2 linked regions of the Homo sapiens genome follow. The protein of the gene in region 1 interacts with the protein of each later gene in a pairwise test. Each region holds a gene or a part of one and is shown in the gene's direction. Other genes may lie near its edges.

Evidence for each region.
Region 2: the proteins of AXIN2 (region 1) and ANKRD6 interact in a two-hybrid assay, tested with the Homo sapiens proteins (one study listed by BioGRID).

What each region holds. Positions count from the first base shown.
Region 1 is NC_000017.11:65,558,649-65,570,441, reverse strand, and holds the start of AXIN2 (axin-2), read left to right. Parts: upstream 1-8,793; 5' UTR 8,794-8,992; intron 8,993-9,264; exon of another isoform or gene 9,265-9,617; intron 9,618-9,702; exon of another isoform or gene 9,703-9,929; intron 9,930-10,124; exon of another isoform or gene 10,125-10,926; intron 10,927-11,705; 5' UTR 11,706-11,793. UniProt on the Homo sapiens protein: Inhibitor of the Wnt signaling pathway. Down-regulates beta-catenin. Probably facilitate the phosphorylation of beta-catenin and APC by GSK3B.
Region 2 is NC_000006.12:89,426,919-89,438,349, forward strand, and holds the start of ANKRD6 (ankyrin repeat domain-containing protein 6), read left to right. Parts: upstream 1-6,233; 5' UTR 6,234-6,457; intron 6,458-6,498; exon of another isoform or gene 6,499-11,431. UniProt on the Homo sapiens protein: Recruits CKI-epsilon to the beta-catenin degradation complex that consists of AXN1 or AXN2 and GSK3-beta and allows efficient phosphorylation of beta-catenin, thereby inhibiting beta-catenin/Tcf signals.

The sequences.
Region 1 (11,793 bases):
ATTTTTAGCACAGATGGGGTTTTGCCATGTTGGCCAGGCTGGTTTCGAACTTCTGACCTCAGGTGATCCACCTGCCTTGGCCTCTCAAAGTGCTGGGATTATAGGCGCGAGCCACTGGGCTTGGCCCAAATATGTGATAATTATTGCCAATAGCTTATGCTTGTCGTCATTGACCATCAACGTGCTGTCATTTCATAAAGTACAGAAAAGGGCCGGGTATGGTGCCTCACGCCTGTAATCCCAGCACTTTGGGAGGCTGAGGCTGGCCGATCACTCAAGGTCAGGAGTTTGAGACCAACCTGGCCAACACGGTGTAACCCCCGTGTCCACTAGAACTACAAAAATCAGCCAGGCATGGTGGTGCACACCTGTAGTCCCAGCTACTCGGGAGGCTGAGGCAGGAGATTCACCTTAACCTGGGTACAGAGGTTGCACTGAGCTGAGATCACGTCATTGCACTCCAGCCTGGGCAACAGAGCGAGACTCTGTCTCAGAAAAAGAAAACATAAAAAAAATAAAGTATAGAAAAGATTCACAACCTGTATGTCTTGCAACTGGGTTCTTACCATTAGCAATGTTAACTGACAGGGCGAAGTCTCATCAGCAGGTCAGTTTTCACCACTCCCCTCCCCAGAGGATACATCTTCATCTGTGGGTCCAGAATCTGGACATGGCTTAGCCGGGTGCCTCCTCCTTGAGGTTTCCATGAGGCTACCAGCAAGCCAGCAGCTGGACCTGCATCATGTCAAGGCTTGCCTAGGTGGCGTTCGGCTTCTGAGATCACTTGGTTGGTGGCAGGGCTTGTCCCTCGTCACACGGGTCCCTCAACAGGGATGCCTCAAGATTCTAGGGAAAGCACCTAAGGAAGGAATCGCAGCCTTTCGATAGCCTAATGTGGAGTGGATGTGCTGTCACATCAGCCATACTCTATTTATTAGGAGAGAGTCAAATGCTATCCATGCTCAAGGGGAGGGAAGTATGCAGGGTGTGGAACTAGGAAGCAGGGATCATTAGGGCCCAACTTAGAGGATGCCAACCACAGCTCCTCGTGACACAGCGACTACTGGCTTGACTCTGGCAGGGGGTTTCCAAGACCCTGTTCCAGACCCTAGGCTGGTATCAGTTCTGATTGGCCGGTACACAGGTTTCACCAGCTATTAAATATCGCCCAGGTCCCTCCTTCCCACAATCTAGTTCAAGGGATGCAAGTATCACAAAACACGGTCCCTGTCCTCAGAGAGTTCATGGTTGAGTGGGTGGGACAGAGAAGTAGATCAACCACAGTGTTTGCTAGAGGTGAGCCCCAGATGCCACAGAAGTAGGAGGATGGGCTCTAGCCCGGTCTCGGGGGATGAGGTGGGAGAGGACTGAAGAAGTGGCAGAGGGAGGGCAGTCGGCCAGGGAGGAAAAGGAGAGGCAATCCACCATGCATATGGTAGGGACAAGGGGGTGTCAGCAAGAAATACAGCTGGAGGGCCAGGCATGGTGGCTCACGCCTGTAATTCCTGTACTTTGGGAGGCCGAGGTGGGTGGATCACCTGAGGTCAGGAGATCAAGACCAGCCTAGCCAACATGGTGAATCCCCGTCTCTACTAAAAATATGAAAATTAGCCAGACGTGGTGGCATGCGCCTGTAGTCGCAGCTACTCTGGAGGCTGAGGCAGGAGAATCACTTCAACCTGGGAGGCGGAAGTTCCAGTGAGCCAAGATTGGGCCACTGCATTCCAGCCTGGGCAACAAGAGCGAGGCTCCTCCATCTCAAACAAACAAACAAAAAAAGATAGAAAAAGAAATAGAGCTGGAAAAGGGCCTGGGCTTGGGCCGGCTACCTGTGCACCACACATAGGGTTCTGGGCCTTATCCTGAAGGTTATGTGCAGCCGGGGAGGATCTGAAGCAGGAGAATGACATGGGTGGCTCTGCACTGCACAGCGTTTACCATTGCAGCACTGCGTGAGGGGGGTCAGGGGTTAGGGCTATAAACTGTAGGTGTGAAGCATCATTAGAACATTTGGCTGTCCCTGGCAAGGGCCCTGATAGCAGTTGTGGATTTGCAGAGCAGGAGGTGGTGGTGGGAGATTTTTTTAGAGGCAGAATCAACAGGGCTGGGTGAATGAATGGAGGCGTTTGAGGGAGAAGGCGGAGTCTAGATGTGGCCCAGGTTTCTTTTTTTTTTTTTTTGAGACAGAGTCTTGCTCTGTCCCCCAGGCTGGAGTGCAGTGACGCCATCTCGGCTCACTGCAACCTCCACCTCCCGAGTTCAAACTATTCTCCTGCTCACCCTTCCAAGTAGCTGGGATTACAGGCGCGTGCCACCACGCCCGGCTAACTTTTTGTATTTTTTTTAGTAGAGACGGGGTTTCACCATATTAGCCAGGATGGGCTCTATCTGACCTCGTGATCCACCCGCCTCGGCCTCCCAAAGTACTGGGATTACAGGCATGAGCCACTGTGCCCAGAGGTGAATAAGGCAACTTATTTCAAGCTCAGCTAAACTTTGCTTTCCAGAAGTTGTTTAAAATGAGCAAAATAAGATATCAGAAGGTGAGAAAAATGTCTACGGGGGGCGGTTTAGGAACACGCGTCGCAGGTTGGCGTGACGACTTTAGGGGGATTCCTTTCTATTTTCCAGTTCCTTTTCTAAAAATGACCTTTCGGGGCTGTTTTCTCCCCCAACCTCGCCCTTTGTTTTGGTGTCTCTCACTGTGGAGAAGATCACTTAAGAAAACAGAACCTCTGGTCCGGGGGCGGTGGCTCATGCCTGTAATGCCAGCATTTTGGGAGGCCAAGGCAGGCGGATCACAAGGTCAGGATGGGGGAATCACAGGGCCAACATGGGGAAACCCCATCTCTACTGAAAATACAAAAAAAAAAAAAAAATTAGCCGGGTGTGGTAGCGGGTGCCTGTAATCCCAGCTGCTTGGGAGGCTGAGAAAGGAGAATTGCTTGAACCCGGGAGGTGGAGGTTGCAGTGAATCGAGATCATGCCACTGCACTCTAGTCTGGGCGACACAGCGAGACTCCATCTCAAAAAACAAAAATAAATAAATACATACATACATACATAAAATAAAATAATAATAATAAAGAAAAAAGAAAGCAAAACCTCTTTCTGGATTTGTTTTAATATAGGTATATCGGTGCTCTCCTCTGGTTACAAGCTCAGGCCAACTCCTAAAAGCCAAACTTGAAGACCACGAAGGGTGAGATGCTGAAAAAAAATCAGCAGTTTGCAGCTCTATTTACAATCCATAATAAAAGCACTTGAAAGTCAGTCCAATTAGGAAGTTTTAAATTACTGTTTAACTGTGTTTTAAATTTCATATTAAAAAAAGATATTTTATCAACAAATAAATTCCCCCAACACTTCTGAAGATGGGATTTCTTTTCTTTTCTTTTGAGGCAGAGTCTCACTCTGTCGCCCAGGCTGGAGTGCAGTGGCACGATCTCGGCTCACTGCAACCTCTGCCTCCTGGGTTCAAATGATTCTCCTGCCTCAGCCTCCCGAGTAGCTGGGATTACAGGTGTCTGCCACCACACCAGGCTAATTTTTGTATTTTCAGTAGAGATGGGGTTTTGCCATGTTGGCCAGGCTGGTCTTGAACTCCTGACATCAGCTGATCCACCTACTTGGGCTCCCAAAGCGCTGGGATTACAGGTGTGAGTCACTGCACCTGGCCTTGAAGATGGGATTTCTTAGGGAAACCTTACTTTTCCCCTTGTGGCTTCAAAATCTCCACCTTGGCATTCCCAGTCCCTCCTCTGCAAAGGGGAGAGGAAGTAGGTCCATTCCTCCTTAGGTGGATCAACTCCACGGAGATGCCCATGTAAATGGCTGCCACTCTAAAAGACGTGGGTCAAACTGTCCCAGATCAGGCTGTGGGTAGCCCAGCTGGCAGAGCCAAGGCAACCTACCTACAGGTAGGGGCTGGATGAAGCGTGCCTTAGAGGGATTTCAGACAGAAGCCCTGTTGTGATTCTTTCAGGAAAGTATCCCAGATTGTATGTATTAGTCCTGTTGTAAAAGTCAAGACCTCCAGATGGTCTCACCCCCTCCATCTCAGCCAGCCCCTCCCTGGGTCTCCTCACTATGGTGTGGAGGAAAAAGAGGCTGGGCCAGGAGTCAGGACCCCTCAGAAGTTCCAGCTCATCTCTGATATGGGCAAAGTGATCCTGGGGAAATCTCACTTTCTCTTTGCTTAATTTGTCTGATTTCTTTCTTTCTTTCTTTCTTTTTTGGAGACAGAGTTTCGCTCTTGTTGCCCAGGCTGGAGTGCAATGGCGCAGTCTCCGCTCAATGCAACCTCTGCCTCTCGGGTTCAGGCGATTCTCCTGCCTCAGCCTCCCGAGTAGCTGGGATTACAGGCATGCATCACCATGCTCAGCTAATTTTTGTAATTTTAGTAGAGACAGGGTTTCACCATGTTGGACAGGCTGGTCTCGAACTCCTAACCTCAGGTGATCTGCCCACCTCAGCCTCCCAAAGTGCTGGCATTACAGGTGTGAGCCACCACACCCAGCCAATTTGTCTGGTTTCTTAAATGAAGGGTTGGACTAGATAACTCTTGAATGGCCCCTGGGCTTATTTCTTTCTGCATAGGACTATCCTTGAAAGATGGTAGCAGGGCACAGCCTCCTTTATCTCCTTTAGGCCCCCTATGGTCAGCCTCCTGGGGTCATTCTTCCCCAGATCGTCACTCCCAATGGACGGTATCTTTGCTTTGGAGATAGGGAGTTTCTTCCCAGAATAGGTAACAGGCTATTGAGGGAACAGACTTACTCTGTGAAAATAACCGCCATGTTCTATTGTGTGTCCAGCTCTGTGCCAGGCATTTATCGTATTGCTCAGGCTCACAACAGCCTTTGCAGGGGAGGTTTCCTCCAGTCTACAGGTGAACAAATGGAAACTCCGTGTGGTTAGGTAACCTCCAGTCTTAGGAAAGGTTACCTGTGTCTCTCTTCACCTTCCTCCCCAAACAAAGGTACATTGTCTAAGGCAGCACTTTTCCAAAGGAATAAAAGACAAAGTTACTGAATCTGAGAGAGCAGTGTCCTGGGTCTCAGCTCCTCTGAAGTCCCAGCTGGTGTGACTTCCCCTCCACAGTGGTTTTTGTGGGGCTGACTAAAGGTCAGAGATCTGGCCAGATGCCTCCCAGGGAGCCCTTAGTCCTTGTTTTCTGGGATTCTAGGATTTCAGCCCAGTATATAATTCCAGCAAAGAATCACTCTCTGCTTTATTAAACTTGTCTGCACTTAGGCAAAGTGGACTGTTTATCCTCCGTAGGGTTTTTCTTTAAAGGTGGAGCGGGGGGGCGAGTGAGCATGTGCAGAAATCCATCACCTTGCTTTCCAGTTTCCAGGCAACCGTGCAGGATTACAACAAGTCACATGATAGCGCTGCTGCCAGGGACAAGGGGAAAATGGAAAACGTGCTATCTTGAGAAACGGGCTGCTATAAGCACAGGACTTTGGATTCTCCTCTAGAAATATTATCAACAAGTAGTCAGAGACCCAGAGGCTAGAGAGAGGGCTTTCCAGTACTTGGCCCAGCCTCCTGCTGGGAGGGAAGTGTCCCACCAGATATAAAGCTGTAGGAAAGGGGACAGGCCAGGGGTGATGGTGGAGGGAGTCACTGCCCTAAAGTGACCCGAGCACCTGTTCTGGAAACCATGCTCTCAGAGGAGTTATTTTTTATTTATTTATTTTTTGAGACGGAGTTTGCTCTTGTTGCCCAGGCTGGAGTGCAATGGCACGATCTCGGCTCACCACAACCTCCGTCTCCTGGGTTCAAGCGATTCTCCTGCCTCCGCCTCTCAAGTAGCTGGGATTACAGGTATGCGCCACCATGCCTGACTAATTTTGTATTTTTAGTAGAGAAGGAGTTTCTCCATGTCGGTCAGGCTGGTCTCGAACTCCTAACCTCAGGTGATCCACCTGCCTTGGCCTCCCAAAGTGCTGGGATTACAGGCATGAGCCACTGCACCCCGGCCCTCAGAGCAGTTATTATTGACCGAGAAGATCCAAACCAAACCGGGCCTTGCTCCTGGGTCCCCAGTCCCAGTCCCAGTCCCCTCTTGCTACAGTCGCAGCCATGGGATAATGAGGTAGTCCTTTGGTTAAAGTTGAGCCTACAGTGATTAGGGCTGGTTGGGGGAGGCAGTGACGGGTCGGTGGGGACAACTGGGAGGAGAGGAAAACCACCCACAAAGACCAAGTTTCCACTTCCTTTTTGAAAACCTCTTTTTTCTGAACATTGTTTATTTTGATTTTAGATGTTTTGATTTTTCTCTCTCCCCCACCCCCCACATTGTGTGTGTGTGTGTGTGTGTGTGTGTGTGTGTGTGTGTGTGTGTGACTTTACTGTTGTTTATATGGTAGACACTTTTATGGCAATCCATACCCCTCTGTCTACATTTCTGTTCCAGTAATAACACCCTCTGTGGCCCAAAGACTCCCTGGAACCACAGTGACAGTTTTACTCTTGGCACTCCTGGGGTGGCCAAAGGTGGTGGCTGTGTTCTTGGCCCTGGGCCAGCTCAGAGCTGGTGGCTAAGAGGGTCCATGGGCCACTGACCCCCCAGAATACCAGCAGGCCGGGGCTTTTAGAGCCCACTGGTTTCCTCACACCAGCAGTTGTCCTAAGGCAAAGATGAGTCATCGGGCCACACTCTTTCCCTGGCCTTCCTGGCTGGCTTCAGGGCCACATTTCAGGGCTGGTACTGCTGTCTTTATGCCAACCTGGCTGCCTGGGGTCGAGAGCCTGGAGCTGCAGACCATGGGCACCGAAAGGCAGGTTTTGGGGAGGAGCGGCCACCTGTCATGGCACCCACGAGCCAGAGTCCAGAGTCTTAGACTAGAAAGTCTAAGAGCTTTCTAGTCCCTTGTCACAGTCCCTTAGGCTGAGGGCAGGTGGCGCACAGTCCTGCCACCTGCCCCTTTCCAGCAGATCATGGGTGGTGGATCTTCCTCCTCTTTTTTTCTTTTCTTTTTTTTTTTTGAGATGGAGTCTTGCTCTGTCGCCCAGGCTCACTGCAACCTTAACCTCCTGTGTTTAAATGATTCTCCTGCCTCAGCCTCCCGAGTAGCTGGGACTACAGGCGCCCCCCACCACGCCTGGCTAATATTTGTAGTTTTAGTAGGGACAGGGTTTCACTATGTTGGCCAGGCTGGTCTCGAATGCCTGACCTCAGGTGATCCGCCTGCCTTGGCCTCCCGAAGTGCTGGGATTACACGGGTGAGCCACCACACCCAGCCTCTTCCTTCTCTTTTTCTATGGATACCTAGATAGAGCCACAATTCTTGCATGTTTTAAAGTTCTGAAGGCCTAATGACAGGCCATCTCGCATTTAAAAGGGCTCGTCATCCATTAAGTTGGAGAGTAAGAGCCTTGCACAGCTCTGAGGCCAGGACTCTGCCTTTCACTTCTTGGATCTCTTTGGTTCACACCTTTATGTGTGTGTGTGTGTGTGTTTTTTTTTTTTTTTTTTGAGGGAGTCTCGCTTTGTCACCCAGCCTGGCGTGCAGTGGTGCCATCTTGGCTCACTGCAACCCCCCCACCCCCGTCTCCTAGGTTCAAGCGATTCTCCTGCCTCAGCCTCCCGAGTAGCTGGGACTACAGGCACGTGCCACCACACCCGGCTGATTTTTGTATTTTTAGTAGAGACGGGGTTTCGCCATATTAGGCAGGCTGGTCTCGAACTCCTGACCTCAGATGATCCTCCAGCATGGGCCTCCCAAAATGCTGGGATTACAGGCATGAGCCACCGTCCCCGGCCCTTTGTTTTTTAAAAGGAAGAAAAGTTAATTATTCGCTCATAACATAAGGAATCATTCTATAGCAGCAGCAGAATAAATACACAATGCTCTGGGTTTGTGACATATTTTCTCATTTTAACGGAGAAGAGAAGGTTGTGTGTGCCTTATAAACGTTTTTGGGCAAATGTGGGAGAAATTCAAAGGTGACAATGGGGTGAGGAGTTTTCGATACATTAAAACGGCATGCATGCCTTGTCGTTTGGAGTGGGAAAAAAGATATTCCTATCGGTTTAATATGTAACATATGGCAGAAGAGGGGACTTTGGAAGAGTAACGGGTATGCAGTTGTTTGGGAGAGATGGCCAATGTGTGCCGCTACGAGGGTCTTATGGCCAGCAGGTTAGGAAGCTGGACCTAGGTCTTCAGGGCACTGAGGTATGCCTCCTAACTGGTGTTAGCACTCAGGCCTATACTGGCGGATTCACACCCCACTTTCACACATGCACAAACGCAATTCATCCACCAACTGCAGTCCTATATTTACCCGAACTCAGATGCACGTGCACAAGCGCGCACAGGCATGCACACGCCTCCAGCGGCTGGGCCCGAGTCCGCCCTATGACAGCGGGCCAGCCAACCCCAGGGCCGGAACTCCCTTTATAAAGTCCTCCAAGCCCAAATTCCCAGGGAAACTTGAATAGAGGTAGAAAAGCGTTTGATGATAGAAAAAAAAAAATCTGCTTGCTTGCAGTTCTTGCGATGGCCATAATGCTACCAGAAACTGTTGCATTCCAGAGCCGGGGAGAGCGAGGGCAGGCAGGGGGAGGAGGCGGGAGCAAAGAGGCCGGAGAACTTAAAAGAAGAAATCAGAACTCGGGCTGAGAATGCCCTCGGGGCCGCGGGGGGCTGGCAGGGGGCGGAGGAGAGGCCGGGGAAGGGTTAACGCGGGAGCGGAGCGTGCGGCGGGGGCGGGCCGGGGCGGGGCGGGGCGGGCGCGGGGCGCTGTCCCTTTAAGGCGGGCGGCGCGGGCCGGCCGAGCGCGGCTGTGATTGGCGCGGCGGGATCACTGGCTCCGCGAGCCTGGCCCGGGGGAGTCGGCTGGAGCCGGCTGCGCTTTGATAAGGTCCTGGCAACTCAGTAACAGCCCGAGAGCCGGGAAATAAAAATAACCCCTCAGAGCGATGGATTTCGGGGCCGCCCGGCGGCCGAGGCGCCCGCCGAAGGCCCTGCTGTAAAAGGTGGGGGTGGAAGCTCGGCCCCAGCGGAGCCGCTTCAAAGAAAGCCCCCCTCTTACAGGGGGCGAGGTCGCGCCGAGCCGCGGCGTGGGCGCGGGGGGCGGGAGGGGGCCCGGCCAGGCGGAGGCCGGGCCTGGAGGGGGGCGCGGGCGGGGCGGCCCTGCGGAGCGGTGGCGGGGCTGCGGGGGGCGGCCCGGGGCGCGGCCGGCGCGTACCTCCCTTTCAGGACCGTGCGCTCGGCTCGCGCCTTTGAAGTGCACAGTTAAATCCACAGCGCAGTTTTTGTTGGAAGCGCCCGGAGGACATTTGGTGCGCCGAGTGACTGCTGGAAACAGGACCTGCGTTGAAAGCCGGGCCGGGCGGGGGCGGAGGCCCGCTCGGATCTTTTGCATAAAAGGGGCGGCGGGGCGCGCCGTTCCCCCTCCCCGGCCGGTGGCTTTCGCTCTGAACCCGGGATTGTTGTTTCCCGCACCCCCTCCCCCGCCGCACGACTCCCCATGTTCCCCGACGCCGCGGCCGGCCCGGGGGGGCCCGGGGCTGCCGCCGCGAGCCGAGCCGGGGGCCGGGGCCGGGCCCCTGCCAGGGGCGCCTGCGAGGTCTCGCCGCCGAGCGCGCGCGGGGATCAATGGTGAGTGCCGAGGCCGAGGCGGCCGGGCGGACCGCGCGCTTTGATGTGCGGGGCGGCCCTTTGAAGTTGGCAGGCCGGCTATTTCGGGGCGCGCTAGGGGCCGGCGCGGAGGGGAGCGGCGGACCCGGCGCCCAGCGTTCCGGGGGGCTTGGCCGGGCAGCCTTGCGCGCCCTGCGCCGGAGCCCCCTCCCCAGCGCGGTGACCGGGTTGGCGGGGGGCCCAGAGAGGAGACTTATCCGAGTGGCGGCAGTGGCGGGGGCGGAGAGGGGGCAGATACCCCCCGGGGGTCGCGTCGCTGTCGCGGTTATGGATGTGAGTCGGCGTGTGAGTGCGCGCGGGAGTGCCTTTGGGAGGTGGGATGAAAGGGTAGCGGCGCCCCCCGCTTGCCCTCCCCCGCCCCCCGCCTCTCCTCCGCCCCATCCTCTCCTCCTACTTCTCTTCCCCCTCCCCTTTTCCCCTCCCTGCCGCGGGTCCGCGCTAAGGGGCCCACAGCGCTGGCGGAGGCTCAGTCTGCGCGCAGGACCGGCCCAAGTCCGGGGCGCCCGTGTCCCTCGCGTCCCTCCTCCCGGCCCGGGCCCCTCGCCCGTGGCCGCCCCGGCCCCTTTTGCGGAGAGGCAGAGACTCCGCGCGTCGCCATTTCTGGACTAGGCTGCTGCTTTCTGTGCTTTTTCTGCGGGCGCCTCTGCAAACGGCGGCGCCGGGGACCGACCCCCCGCCCGGGCTCGGGGCGCTGCTGGCGTGTCCCGGGGTTCCGGCCTCGAGGTGTGCCCGCCAGGGCTCTGGAGGCGTTCAGTTGCATTTGGGCCGGGGGACCGGGCCGGAGGGGCTCGGAGGACATGAGAGCCTGGCTTCGGCGGCCTTCGTCTTCCAGGTAACGGGGCCGCTCCACCTCCCACCGCCCGGGTAGCGCGGTGCCAACGGCAGCCCCACTTCTCCGTGGGCCGCGCCGCCCAGCCCCGCGGCTCGAGGCTCTGGTCGGGTTCAGCGTGCACCCATCCCAGATCCGGGGTCCCTGGCTTCTCGCCCGGGGTTGCACCCCGTTCAGCCCCTACCCTTCTTAGTTTGATCTTTTCCGTGCTAGGGAAAGCAGCTTGTTTATTGGTTAGATAAGACTTTTTTCTTTGGAAAAAAGACAGGCTTGAAATCAGTAGAGTTTGGGATTCTTGGCACAGGCAGTAGTGGCGTGAGACGGCTGGTGATCCAGTTTTGTAGGTTTCGCGGATCCGGGAGGTGGGTTGGGGGCACGGGGGCGACGGTTCCGAGGCTTCTCAGCTCTCTCTCAAAGTTTGAAGATGAAAGTCTCCCCTGAGTGAGTTGGTTTCTGGTTTGGGGGGAGGTCAGGGAAGACAGAGGTGTTGACTGAGCTGGATTCTTGGTGGGGGTAGGGGGCGCGTAGCGAACACTCAAATCTGAGTTGGGGAGGGGGTGTTTGCGTGCTGAATCTGGGAGTCCGGGAGCCCAATCCGCCTATGCTGGGCGGGCTTCTCTTGGGCCAGGATCTTCTGAATTTTTAAGGAGTGGGAAGAGGGAGCGCAGAGGGAGGGGGTGGGTGGGGAGAATGGGAACCAGATGCCGGGGAAGGGCACGTTTGGAGCTCGAGTTATCTGTGCAGGGCCGAGTGGGGAAATATACCGAAATTGGTTTCACCTGCACACAGCCTAGCGGCTGGGAGTGCGCCTTTTTGGAGTTGATGGTATCGGGGGAGGGGAAGGGAGGGAAGGCGAGGCGCGGGCTGAGCTGCCCTGCGTGCGCCCTGGCCGAGTGGGTTTTTGGAAGGTTGTGTCTTACACCTCCAGTGTCCCCCTGCCGTCCCCAGCTCTTGCCTTCCTCTCACCTTCCCCGCCTCTTTCCCAACAGCTCCCTCCCACCCCCAACCCCGAAAAGTGTGCAGGGAGCTCAGATTTCGCTTTTGAAAAGCAGCGCCTGATACTTTAGATGAGCACCTCGCAGATAGCTGGGTTGCTTGATTTGAATTTGAGGAGTTGAAAAGCCTGTTTACTTTCTTGCTTTGATGTTGGGTAGATCTGGTTTTGATTAGATCAATACCCTTTTCTCTCTCCCCACCTCCCCCCTTCCTTTTCTTTCCAGAGAGGAGGTTCAGATGAGCCCCTGCTGACTTGAGAGAGACAGAGAGACCACGCCGATTGCTGAGAGGAACTGGAAGAAGAAAAATTCC
Region 2 (11,431 bases), on another chromosome or scaffold:
AGCTAGGACTACAGGCTTGTGCCACTATGCCCTGCTAATTAAAAAAAATTTTTTTGTAGAGACAGGGTCTCACTATGTTGCCCCGGTTGGTCTTGAGCCCCTAACCCCAAGCAATCATCCCTCCTCAGCCTCCCAAAGTGTTGGAATTACAGGCGTGAGCTACCACCCCCTGCCCAGAAATGCAAATTATTAAGACCACAGTGAGATACTACCACATAACTACCAAAATGACTGAAATTAAAAAATAGTGACAACACCAAATGCTGGCAAGGATACAGAAAACTCAGATATCTCATACATTGGTGGTGGGAAGTGTAAAATGGTATAGCCACCCTGGAAAACAGTTTGGCAGTTTCTTAAACACTAAACATGCGACTACAAAATGACCCAGCAATTGCCCTTCTGGTTACTTATCCCAGAGAAGTGAAAACTATGTTCATATGAAAACATGTATATGAATGTTCACAGCAGCTTTATTCATAATAACCCAAACCCAGATGCTGTTCAATGGGTGAATGGCTAAACAAACTGTAGTATATCCACACTGTGGAATACTACTTAGCAATGGAAAGAATCAACAGTTGACACACACAACAACTTGGATGAATCTCAAGGGCATTATGCTGAATGAAGAAAAAGGCAGCCTCAAAAGGCCACATACTGTATGATTTCATTTACATAATATTCTGGGTTTTTTTGAGATGGAATCTTGCTTTGTTGCCCAGGCTGGAGTGCAGTGGTGTGATCTCGGCTCACTGCAACCTCTGCCTCCTGGGTTCAAGCGATTCTTCTGCCTCAGCCTCTCGAGTAGCTGGGACTACAGGCATGCCACCATGCCCAGCTAATTTTTGTTATTTTTGGTAGAGATGGAGTTTTGCCGTTTTGGCCAGGCTGGTCTTGAACTCCTGACCTCAAGTGATCCGCCCCCGCCTTGGCCTCCCAAAGTGCTGGGATTACAGGCATGAGCCACCGCGCCTGGCCTACGTAACATTCTTAAAATGACAAAATTATAGAGATGGAGAACAGATTAGTGGTTGTCAGAGATTAGGGATGGTGTCGGGGAGGGGGTTGGGTGTAACTATAATTAAGTAGCATGAGGATGATTCTTTGTGGTGATGGCATAGTTCTGTATTTTGATAGAATGGTGGTTATATGAAACTACATATGTGATAAAATTGCACAGAGCTACACACACACACACACACACACACACACACACATTGTACCAATGACTTAATATCATAAAGATGCCAATTTTTTCCAAATAGCAGTAGTAGGAAACATTCTTGCTTCTATTACATGAAGGCTGCAGACTTTTTGTGGCCATATTGGACTCTGCATGATTCCATTTGTCTTTTCATTCTGGATCCCCACGGAAGGTGCAGCCACTCTTTGGGGCATGATATTCTCATGGCAAATGGCAGAAGCTCAAGGGAGGTAGGGGAAGCACTAAAGCATACAACATATTTTAAGCTTCTGTTCCAATGTGGTGTTTGCCAAGGCAAGTCAACACAAGCCCAAAACCAATGGAGCAGACTGGTTTACCCGACCTATAGAAAAGCATGGCAAAGATGGAAAGGGTACGAATAATTGTGAATGAACAATGCAATCCACCACATATATTTACTGAGATTTGAGATTTCAAATTAAAATCTCAAGTTTATCATAACAAATGAATTAGAAAATGTCTATGAAGGAGAAAAGAGCTAAGAATACTTGAGATCTGTATAAATAAAAAAGAGAAATAAGTCAGGGTAGGACTTGTATATTTGGAAATCAACACTTGAAATAAAACCACAGGCTAGGCACAGTGGCTCACACCTGTAATCCCAGCACTTTGGGAGGCCAAGGCGGGTGGATCACTTGAGGTCAGGAGTTCAAGACCAGCCTGGCCAACACGGTGAAACCCTGTCTCTACTAAAAAATAATTTTAAAAAAATTAGCTGGGCGTGGTGGCATGCAACTGTAATCCCAGCTACTCAGGAGGCTGAGGCAGGAGAATCACTTGAACCCAGGAGAAGGAGGTTGCAGTGAGCCAAGATCATGTTACTATGCTCTGGCCTGGGCAACAGAGCGAGGCTCTTTCAAAAAGAAAAAAAAAGAGAAAAGAAAGAGAGAAAGAGAAAGAAAAAAAAAAGAAAACCAAAGATTTCAGGCAGTATGATGCTAGCAGAGGGATAGACAAATGGAACAAAATAGAGGACCGAAAACAAACCTATATGTGTATAAAAATCCATTGTAAGAGAGTTCTGGCATTGCAAATGAAAGGAGAAATGAATTTCAGATAGAATGTGGACTTACACATGAAAGACAAAATTGTAACACTTGAAATAAAATATGGGAGAATATTTTTATATCCTTGGGGTCAGAAAGGACTTCTCAAAACACATGAAACAAGGCAAAAGACACCATCAATTAACAAAAGAGGAAACAGGACTAGCTATTAAACATTAAAGATGCTCAGCCATACTGGTAATTGGGGAAATACAAACTACAACTATTATGAGAGATCATTTAGATGAAAACAAGTGCTGGCAAAGATTGTGGGACATGGATGACTTTCTTTTTTTTTTTTCTGAGACGGAGTCCCGCTCTGTCACCCAGGCTGGAGTGCAGTGGCACGATCTCACTGCAAGCTCCACCTCCTGGGTTCACGCCATTCTCCTGCCTCAGCCTCCCGAGTAGCTGGGACTACAGGCGTCCGCCACCATGCCAGGCTAATTTTTTGTATTTTTAGTAGAGATGGGGTTTCACCGTGTTAGCCAGGATGGTCTCGATCTCCTGACTTCGTGATCCACCCGCCTCGACCTCCCAAAGTGCTGGGATTTACAGGCGTGAGCCACCATGCCCGGCCAGATGACTTTCATATACAGGTGTTAGAAATGAAAATTGGTATGACCACTTTAGAAAACAATTTTAGAAAACAACCAGTTTAGACAGTTTGACATTACCTAGTAAATTTGAACGTGCACTTACCTTAAGACCTGATGATTCCACTTCTAGGTATATATCCTAAAAAACATTCTTACACACATGTATCGGAGAAATATTTAAGAATATTCACAGCAACACTGTTTGCAATAGCAAAAACTGGAGCCAATCCAACATCCAAAAGTAGAATGGGTAATTAAATTGTGTTATGTTTTTACAACAAAATACCTATATAACAGAGAAATCAGATAGGTGAATCTCAGAAACATAATGCTGGGCAAAAGCTGCAAGTTGCATGGGAATAATGCAGAATGATTCTATTTTAAAAAAGCTCAAAAACACGCAAAAACAAACCATGTAGTGTTTAGGGACACATATATTTGTGATAACATAATTATTAACACAAAACTTAGGATGGTGGTTTCCTCTGAAAGAGAAGGATATGATTATAGAGCGGCAGATGGAAGGGTTCTTCCTTGAGTGGAAGCTTTAGCAAAGGCAGTTTCAGTGGAGTGGCAGGGATGGAAGCCAGAATGGTGTGTTGAAGGCTGCGTTGAAGCTAACAACATGAAAGACAGCTAATGCAGTCAGCTCATTAAAGACATGTTGTTGAAAATAGGAGCAGATTATATTATCACAAAGCAGTGAAAATGATCATTTGCAGAGCAAACTTCTTTCTCACAAGGCAGAAGGAGGGTGAGCTAGGGTGAATATAAGAGGCTGGCTGTGATTGAGCTGAACGTAGGGGCAAGAACAGAGCTGCAGCCTGGGAGCCCTTCTCATAAAGAGGGAGATTTAGGAGTCTTCTTCGTTGGTCGCCCAAAGACTGTCTGCCCACTTGGAGATAAGCAAGCAAGATCTCCAAGCAGCTCAGCCACTGCCTGCTTTGGCTCTCATGAGACCTCCTGCCAGGAATCCCCATTAATCAAAGTCTGGGAACAAAAGCAGACCAGTCAGTTCCCAGGAGCGCTCACATGTCTTGCAGGCTGGCTTGGGCTTTCTGTTTCTTTCGGGGTCATTGCTCTGACTACCCACAAATATAACTTAAAATCTCATCTCAATGTGACTTTCTGGTGATGTTTTAAAAGCCTATCAGGGAAACTGAGCATTTGCATCTTTGGAAGTTTATTCGAGGGACTAGCTAGGAAAACTCAATGTGGAAAAGTACAAGAGAGAAATGATCACATTGAAAGGTCATGTGGCTGGGCGCGGTGGCTCACACCTGTAATCCCAGCACTTTGGGAGGCTGAGGCAGGTGGATCACAAGGTCAGCAGTTCGAGATCAGCCTGACCAACATGGTGAAACTCCGTCTCTACTAAAAATACAAAAAAATTAGCTGGGCGTGGTGGCAGGCGCCTGTAATCCCAGCTACTTGGGAGGCTGAGGCAGGAGAATTGCTTGAAACCGGAAGGTGGAGGTTGCAGTGAGCCGAGATTGCACCACTGCACTCTAGCCTGGGCAATAAAAGCAAAACTCCATCTCAAAAAATAAAAAGAAAGGTCATGTGTACAAACTTTGACTTTGAGGGTTATCTAGGAACTCATTAGTAACCTGCCTGGAGAGAAACCTGGAGCTACAAGCCAGCAGAGAAAGGAAATGTGTTCTTCTATCAGCTCCAGGTGTAGAGCAACAGGAATGGGGCACAAATCTGAAGAAGGGCTGGGCGCGGTGGCTCACACCTGTAATCCCAACACTTTGGGAGGCTGAGGCCGGAGGATTACTTGAGCCCAGGAGTTCAAGACCAGCCTTGACCTCCTCTGTGTTAAACATAAAAAAATTAGCTGGGCATGGTGGTGCACACTTGTAATCCCAACTATTCAGGAGGCAGAGGCAGGAGGATTGCTTGAGCCCAGGAGTTCAAGACTGCAGTGGGCTACTGCACTTCAGCCTGGGTGACACAGCAAGGCCCCATCTTAAGGGGGAAAAAAAAGTCTGGAAAAGGCCAAAGGATACTCAGAAGAGAGATTTCACATCCTGTTAGGTAAAACTGCAGCTGTGACTATGGGGTTGGGAAAATTTCAGAAGCAGTAGGAGAAAATCAAGAACTTCCCCTTCCTAGTGTGGAAACAGGCTCTTGGGATCTCTCCTGCCTAATGATCCCTGAAGGAGAGAGGGAAACAAACATCTTAAGGAAAAGGAAGAAATCATCATGTTTCTTTTCTCCTGGAAACCAGGCCTGTTTCAGAGGGAATAAGAAAAGTCGGCTGGGTGCAGTGGCTCATGCCTGTAATCCCAGCACTTTGGGAGGCCGAGGCTGGAGGATCACGAGGTCAGGAGTTCGAGACCAGCCTGACCAATATGGTGAAACCCCATCTCTACTAAAAATACAAAAATTAGCCAGGGATGGTGGCGGGCACCTGTAATCCCAGCTACTCAGGAGGCTGAGGCAGGAGAATCACTTGAACCTGGGAGGCGGAGGTTGCAGTGAGCCTAGATGGTGCCATTGCACTCCAGCCTGGGTGACAGAGTGAGACTTCGTCTCAAAAAAAAATTTTAAGCAAGAAAGAAAAAAAAATCAGATTCGTGATAAGCTTGTCCCAAAACCTCAGGTAAGATTGATAGTCCATTTTAGGGTGCTGCTTGCCTCCTCTTCCATCTCTCCGCCTTTGGAGAGCAGATACCTGTCCATGCTTCTTCAAAGGGTGGAATGAGATCCCATCCATCTTACATGTATTCAACAGTAGCTTATTGAATGCTTCCTGTGTTCAGGGAGCTCTTCTAGGTATTGAAGAAGTGGCTGTGAATGAAAATAGACAAAACCAGACTGAGATAATGGTATGTAAAGTGTGATATGAATATGGGGGTCAGGCTCGCTCAATGCTTTTGCCATTTCCATATGGGATGATTCCAACAAGATACTTATAGTCAAGCTGTTAGAAATAAAGGCTTCCTTTCCCCTCTCCAGCTACCCCAATAAATCTGGGTCATTCATCATTGTTGTTCAGTTTGTACTGAGCAGCCCCAGTTAAGTGAGCTATGGTTATATTGAAATATCCACTTGGCCACGAATTGAGTGAAGGTGGGAGGTTCCTCCTGCTAATTCTCCTCCCCTCCCAATACACTTCCTGGCAACCCCCACGCGGAAAACCTCACCCTACTATAGGCCCCCTTCCTCCCACTCTTCAGAAGGCGGTGGCCCCACCCAGGAGAGGGCTGCAGATCGGGGCCAGCCCCAGGGCCTCCGCGGTGCCACCTCTCTCTCGCGAGGGTCCCTGCCGTGCCCCGGCTCGCCGCTGGGAGGCGCTGCGGCACCGGCGTAGGAGCCGCCGGCAGGGGTGGGGCGGGGCCGGCGGGACGGGGCAGAGGGCCCTGCGGCGGCGGACGCGGCGGGCTCGGCCACAGGTAACCCGCAGGAGCCGAGAGCGCTGCCTGGCGCGCGGGCGGCTGGAGGCACGGCGCTGGGCGGCGCCGAGGCCCTGGGGCCGCCGGAGCCAGCGGGAGCCAGTCCCCGTCTTCGCCCCTCGCCCCCCACCGTGTCGCCGGCCTTGGTCCCTGCGGCGCGGACGTCCGGCGCGGGAGAGAAAGGTACCAGGCGACCTCGCCGGCTCCCTGGGACCCCCGCTTACACCGGGGTGGGCGCCTCAGGTCGGGGAGGACGCTGTCGGGGGAAGGGGGCGCTGCTCCCTCGGCACCCCAGGATCGCCGACTGCCCGCGGAGGAGACCCGGACACCGCGCCTCGCCCCCTGGCCTGCGGCCTCCGAAAACGCCCGGCGCGAGGGGGTCCCCCCGGGGCGCCTCCCTCTTCGCCTGGCATCAGTTGCCTCCCTGGAATATGGAACTTCGGGCGAGGGAGGTGGAGAACTTTCTTCTGGGGCTCGTCCCTCGTTCTCCTGCTCGCTTGCAGTTTGAAGGAAGGGCGGTGGGGGCGGGGGTCCGAGTACCCCGCGGTCTGCGGCGCGTAGGAGGGTAGGTCCCTGGCCTGCGGCCGCCTCCGAATGACCCCGTCCCTCCCCGCCCTGGACGACAGCACTAGGGTGCAGTCGCAGGAGAGGGGCCGATACCCCTCAGGAGCCCCATCGGCGAAGCCTCAGCAAGTGGCATCTCCCGGGGTCCAGAGAGTCGGCGTGCTGTCTGGTTTGGGTCCAGACATCAGCTCACCCAAGCTTATCTTGGGCTTTTAAGTGTGTTGCTTCCGGTAGATCTCGGGGACTGGAGGGGAAGTGCAGCATTATTTGTGACCCAAGAGGGACTTGAATGTCTCAAAGCTGGTCAAGAATGTTTCCCCCGCGAGGTAGCATGAGATGGGTCACGTGGTAGTAAAGAGCCACTTCGGGCCCGTGAGATGGAGTTCTGACTCCACCACTTGTTAGGTGTGTGACTTTGGAAAACCCACTTCTTTAAACCTTAGTTTTTAGAACTCTAAACTGCAGGTATTGTACATAACCTCGTAGTATTGTGTTCATGCAGTGAAGTGATGGGAATGAAATGCTTGGCATTGTACTCTTGTGTGTTAGACACCTTTTGCGAACCTGTTGGATGTTGAATTCATTCATGCTTAGGTTCTGTTAGGCCAGTGTAAGTGGAAAGAACTTGGGCAATGAAGACAAACACACCTGGGTCCAAGGTGGTCCCATCCATGGTATACTGATTGGGGGTTTCTCATCCCCAAAACACCAATAGCAGCCTTGGCGGGGTTTTTGTTGTTGTTGTTTTGAGACAGAGTTTCGCTCTGTTGCCCAGGCTGTAAGCTTTGACCTCCTTAGCTCAACCGATCTTCCCACCTCAGCCTGGGACCACCACACCTGGCTAATTTTGAATTTTTTTATTTTACTAGAGACAGAGTCTCACTGTGTTGCCTAAGCTGGTCTCGAACTCCTCCTGTCTCAGCCTCCCAAAGTGTTGGGATTACAGGTGTGAGCCACTGTACTGGTCTGCAGCCTTGTTCTTGAGTGTAGTAGGTGTGTCTATACCGATACATGTTACACTTTGTCATCTTTAGTATTTGTTTAGCATATGGTAACAAAAAATTTTTTAAAAATTAGGGATACAAATTAAAATTGGGGAGTATTTTCTGCCCTCTAGGTCATACTGGACATGGGGGAAGGGTAGAAGAGGGATGAAGAGGAATTAAAGAGACCAGAAAACAACTAGTCGCAGTGTTGGGAGGTATAAACCAATGGTAATTTTTAAAAATGTGAATTTATTAACTCCTTGTTTTTTCATGGTGGCACCAAAAATTAATCTTAGTCTCCCACTTAAACTCATCAGCCTCCCCAAAGCCTTTCCAGATAAGCATATGCTCCATGTAAAAGCAGACTGCCTGCGATCCAACTCAGCTTAGAGACAAGGCACACTTCCAACTCCCAAGGCCTCCTTCTTGTATAGAGATGCTGGTGCTGCCACTGTGAAATACATCATACACTCAGACAGTATAAACCTTAGAGTGCAATGTAAAGAATAACAATAGATCACACCCAAGTACGAGTCACCCGGCTGAAGAACTAGAACATCGCCAGGCCCCTGGAGCCCCTGAGTACCCCTCTCCATTGCCTTCCACTCACTTCTCGCCTCCCACCCAAGGAACCACTATTCTGGATGTTGTGTTAACTTTTTCCCTTGCTTATATGAAAAACCCTGAGGAAAGGAAGTTTCCCAACAAGCATTTCCACAATAACCTGGAGCATTCTTTATTTTTCTTTTTTTCTCAAGGAGCATTGTTATTGAACTTAAAAGCAGGCTATTGAGGGTAAGATACAAACCACAAAAAAGCCGAAAGTCTCAAAGTCGGGGGATCTTTTAGTCTCTGTCTTCTTCCAAGTTTCTCCTGTCTCCCTGGCACGGATCCCGAAGGTGTGTTCTGTCTGTGTAGGGGAGACCCAGTCTCTTCCAACATAGATTGATGGCTGTGATTTTAAAAGCTTTGCTTGAGTCCCTAAGAAGTGGGAAAACAGTAATTTGGGTGCGTGCGTTTTAGAAGTTTTTTTAAAAATGCAAATTATCCAGAAGGCATTGTGTGGGATTTGAAGGATTAAGCTAAGAGTGACCTTTAAAAATGGTTTTAACAACCCAAATTCCTCTTCCTGGTTGATATGTTTGTGTTATTGTCTTTGTTTTATTTCTTCAAGGTCACATGGCTTTCCTTGGTGAATCTTACACTGTTTTGTTACTTCTTGGTTAAGGCAAAGATTCTGAAACTTGGTTTCATGGAGCCCTTAGTGTCTGAGTTAATTTTTTCACAATTCCCTTAGGCTTCAGTAGTTAGTAATTTTTTCACAATTCCCTTAGGTTTCAGTAGTTAGTAGTTAGGTTCAAACAACTGAGTATTTACTTAGAAGTTGTTTGAAAAAATAATATACATAAACTGAGAGAAAAAATATTTTACATCCTTTAAAGTCATAATTACTAACCGTATGTGTGTGCCTATACTACTTTTCAAACCTTGGGATCGTGTTGGACACTGCCACTCTCATTTCCTGTTTCACATTAATATTTCCGCAGCATTTGGCTTTTATCACAGCAGCCACAGAAAACCCAGCTTTGCAAAGATGTATTGTCTTGGATAGGAATGTAACATGATCTACTGTTGAAACTGCAAACTACCTCCAGTTAATAGGTTCAGCAGTGTCCAGACATGTTTGGTATACTAGTTTCCATTGAAATTTTCAGATTTTCTACATTGCCCATTTTAATTTGCTATAGTTGCAAAACACCCAGTCAGGGGGTCCAAAATAGTAAACTTTGAAAACATTATGCTAGGTGAAATAAGTTAGTCACAGAAGGGACAATATTGTATGATTCTGTTTATATTAGGTACCTAGAGTAGTCATACACATGGAGACAGAAAGTAGAATGGTAGTTACCAGGGGTAGGGGGAGGACAGAATAGGGAATTCATGTACTATTTTTGCAACTTCTATGTAAGACTAATATTATTTCAAAATAAAGTTTTTAAACGTTTTTTAAAAACAAATTCTGTTGATGGTGCCCCACTGCTGGACTGTACCAAGGCACTGAGGTTAGGGACAGCAGCAGAGAAAAGCTTAGGGGTGACATTATCTCTATTTCCCAGCTCTTCCTCATCCCGTCAAGGGGGAAGAGATGGAAGAAATAGCTATGTTCTCTCTCTTTTATAGGGAAGTGTCTGCATTATTTACTGGTGGGTTCCTTTATAAACCTGAGGATCAGCTATTAAATTTGTCACTAAAATAAGAATTTTTAACCTGGGGTTCAGTGGTGGGCTACAAATACTCTAAGATCTCCCAAAATTATGTATAAGTATTTAAGTGAATGCTCTTATGTATGTTTGAGGGGGAAGAAGTTCCATAGCTTTCATCAGATTCTCAAATGGTTTCCTAAGTCAAAAAAGGTTAGTAAGCGCTATAAGGAAATATTTACAGATTCCTACCTACCCCCACCCCATAAAAGGCCCCTTTATTTGGATGTCTTATCCCATTTCAGTTCTCTGACATATCTTTCCCCCACCAGTTACAAGAGGCTTTCTTTCTGCTCAGACCCCAGATAAGCCCGACCAGTTCTTTTTCCTCAGAGCCCCCAGCTATTCATCTGGATCCTGAAAACTCCAGGACCAATTCCTCAAGAGCCAAAGGAAGTCCCAGAATGAACATCTTGGACTTCTGAATAGGGCAGATGTGGAACTGAAGTCTCACAACTGCCACATCTCTCTGTGCCCTCCTTAGGTCTAGAAAAATATGAAGTAAATAATAATATATTAGGTACACAGCTATGGAAAAACTCATGAAGATGGTACTGAATGACTGAAGTCCAGTACATTCTGCTTTGGGGGAGGCAAATTTAATTTTAAGAGTGTCTTCTGGTTTACACTTTATGTTCCAAATGTATTCTAAATATAGCATACAATACGTCCTACCTTGTTTCATATCCAGTGATACAGATGAGCTATAGAATTTACACAGTGTTAGAAAAGATGTTAAATATCAGAATTTACTTAATAAGTAGGTCTCTACTCATTCAGACTGGTTTCATTTTATTTTATTTTATTTTTGAGGCAAGGTCTCGCTGTCACCCAGGCTAGAGTGCAGTGGTGCAATTTCAACTCACTGCAACCTCTGCCTCCTGGGCTCAAAGCCATCCTCTCACCTCAGCCTCCTAAGTAGCTGGGACTACAGGCACATAACACCACGCCCTACTATTTTTGTATTTTTGGTAGAGACAGGGTTTCACCTTGTTGCCCAGGCTCACACTGGTTTTAAACTCAGATGAATGGGGTAGGTAAGTGGCAAAAATGGTAACCTGCAAGCTCTTCTTATACATATGATTCCTCAATAGTTGCATTTATCTTAGAAATACTTCAATAAATCATGATTTGAGTCTTTCACCGATACAGGTATATTCTGTATGCTGTAAGGTAGGCTAACTGCTGTAACAAACATTTCCAAACCTCAGTGGTTTAATCTAGCTCACACAAGTCCTAATCAGTTATTCCTGTTGGGCAGCTCTCCTGGGTAGCTGTCCTTCAGGTGACTCAGGGATCAAGGTTCATTCCTTCTTGTGATGCCACCATCTTCATGTGGTCTCCAG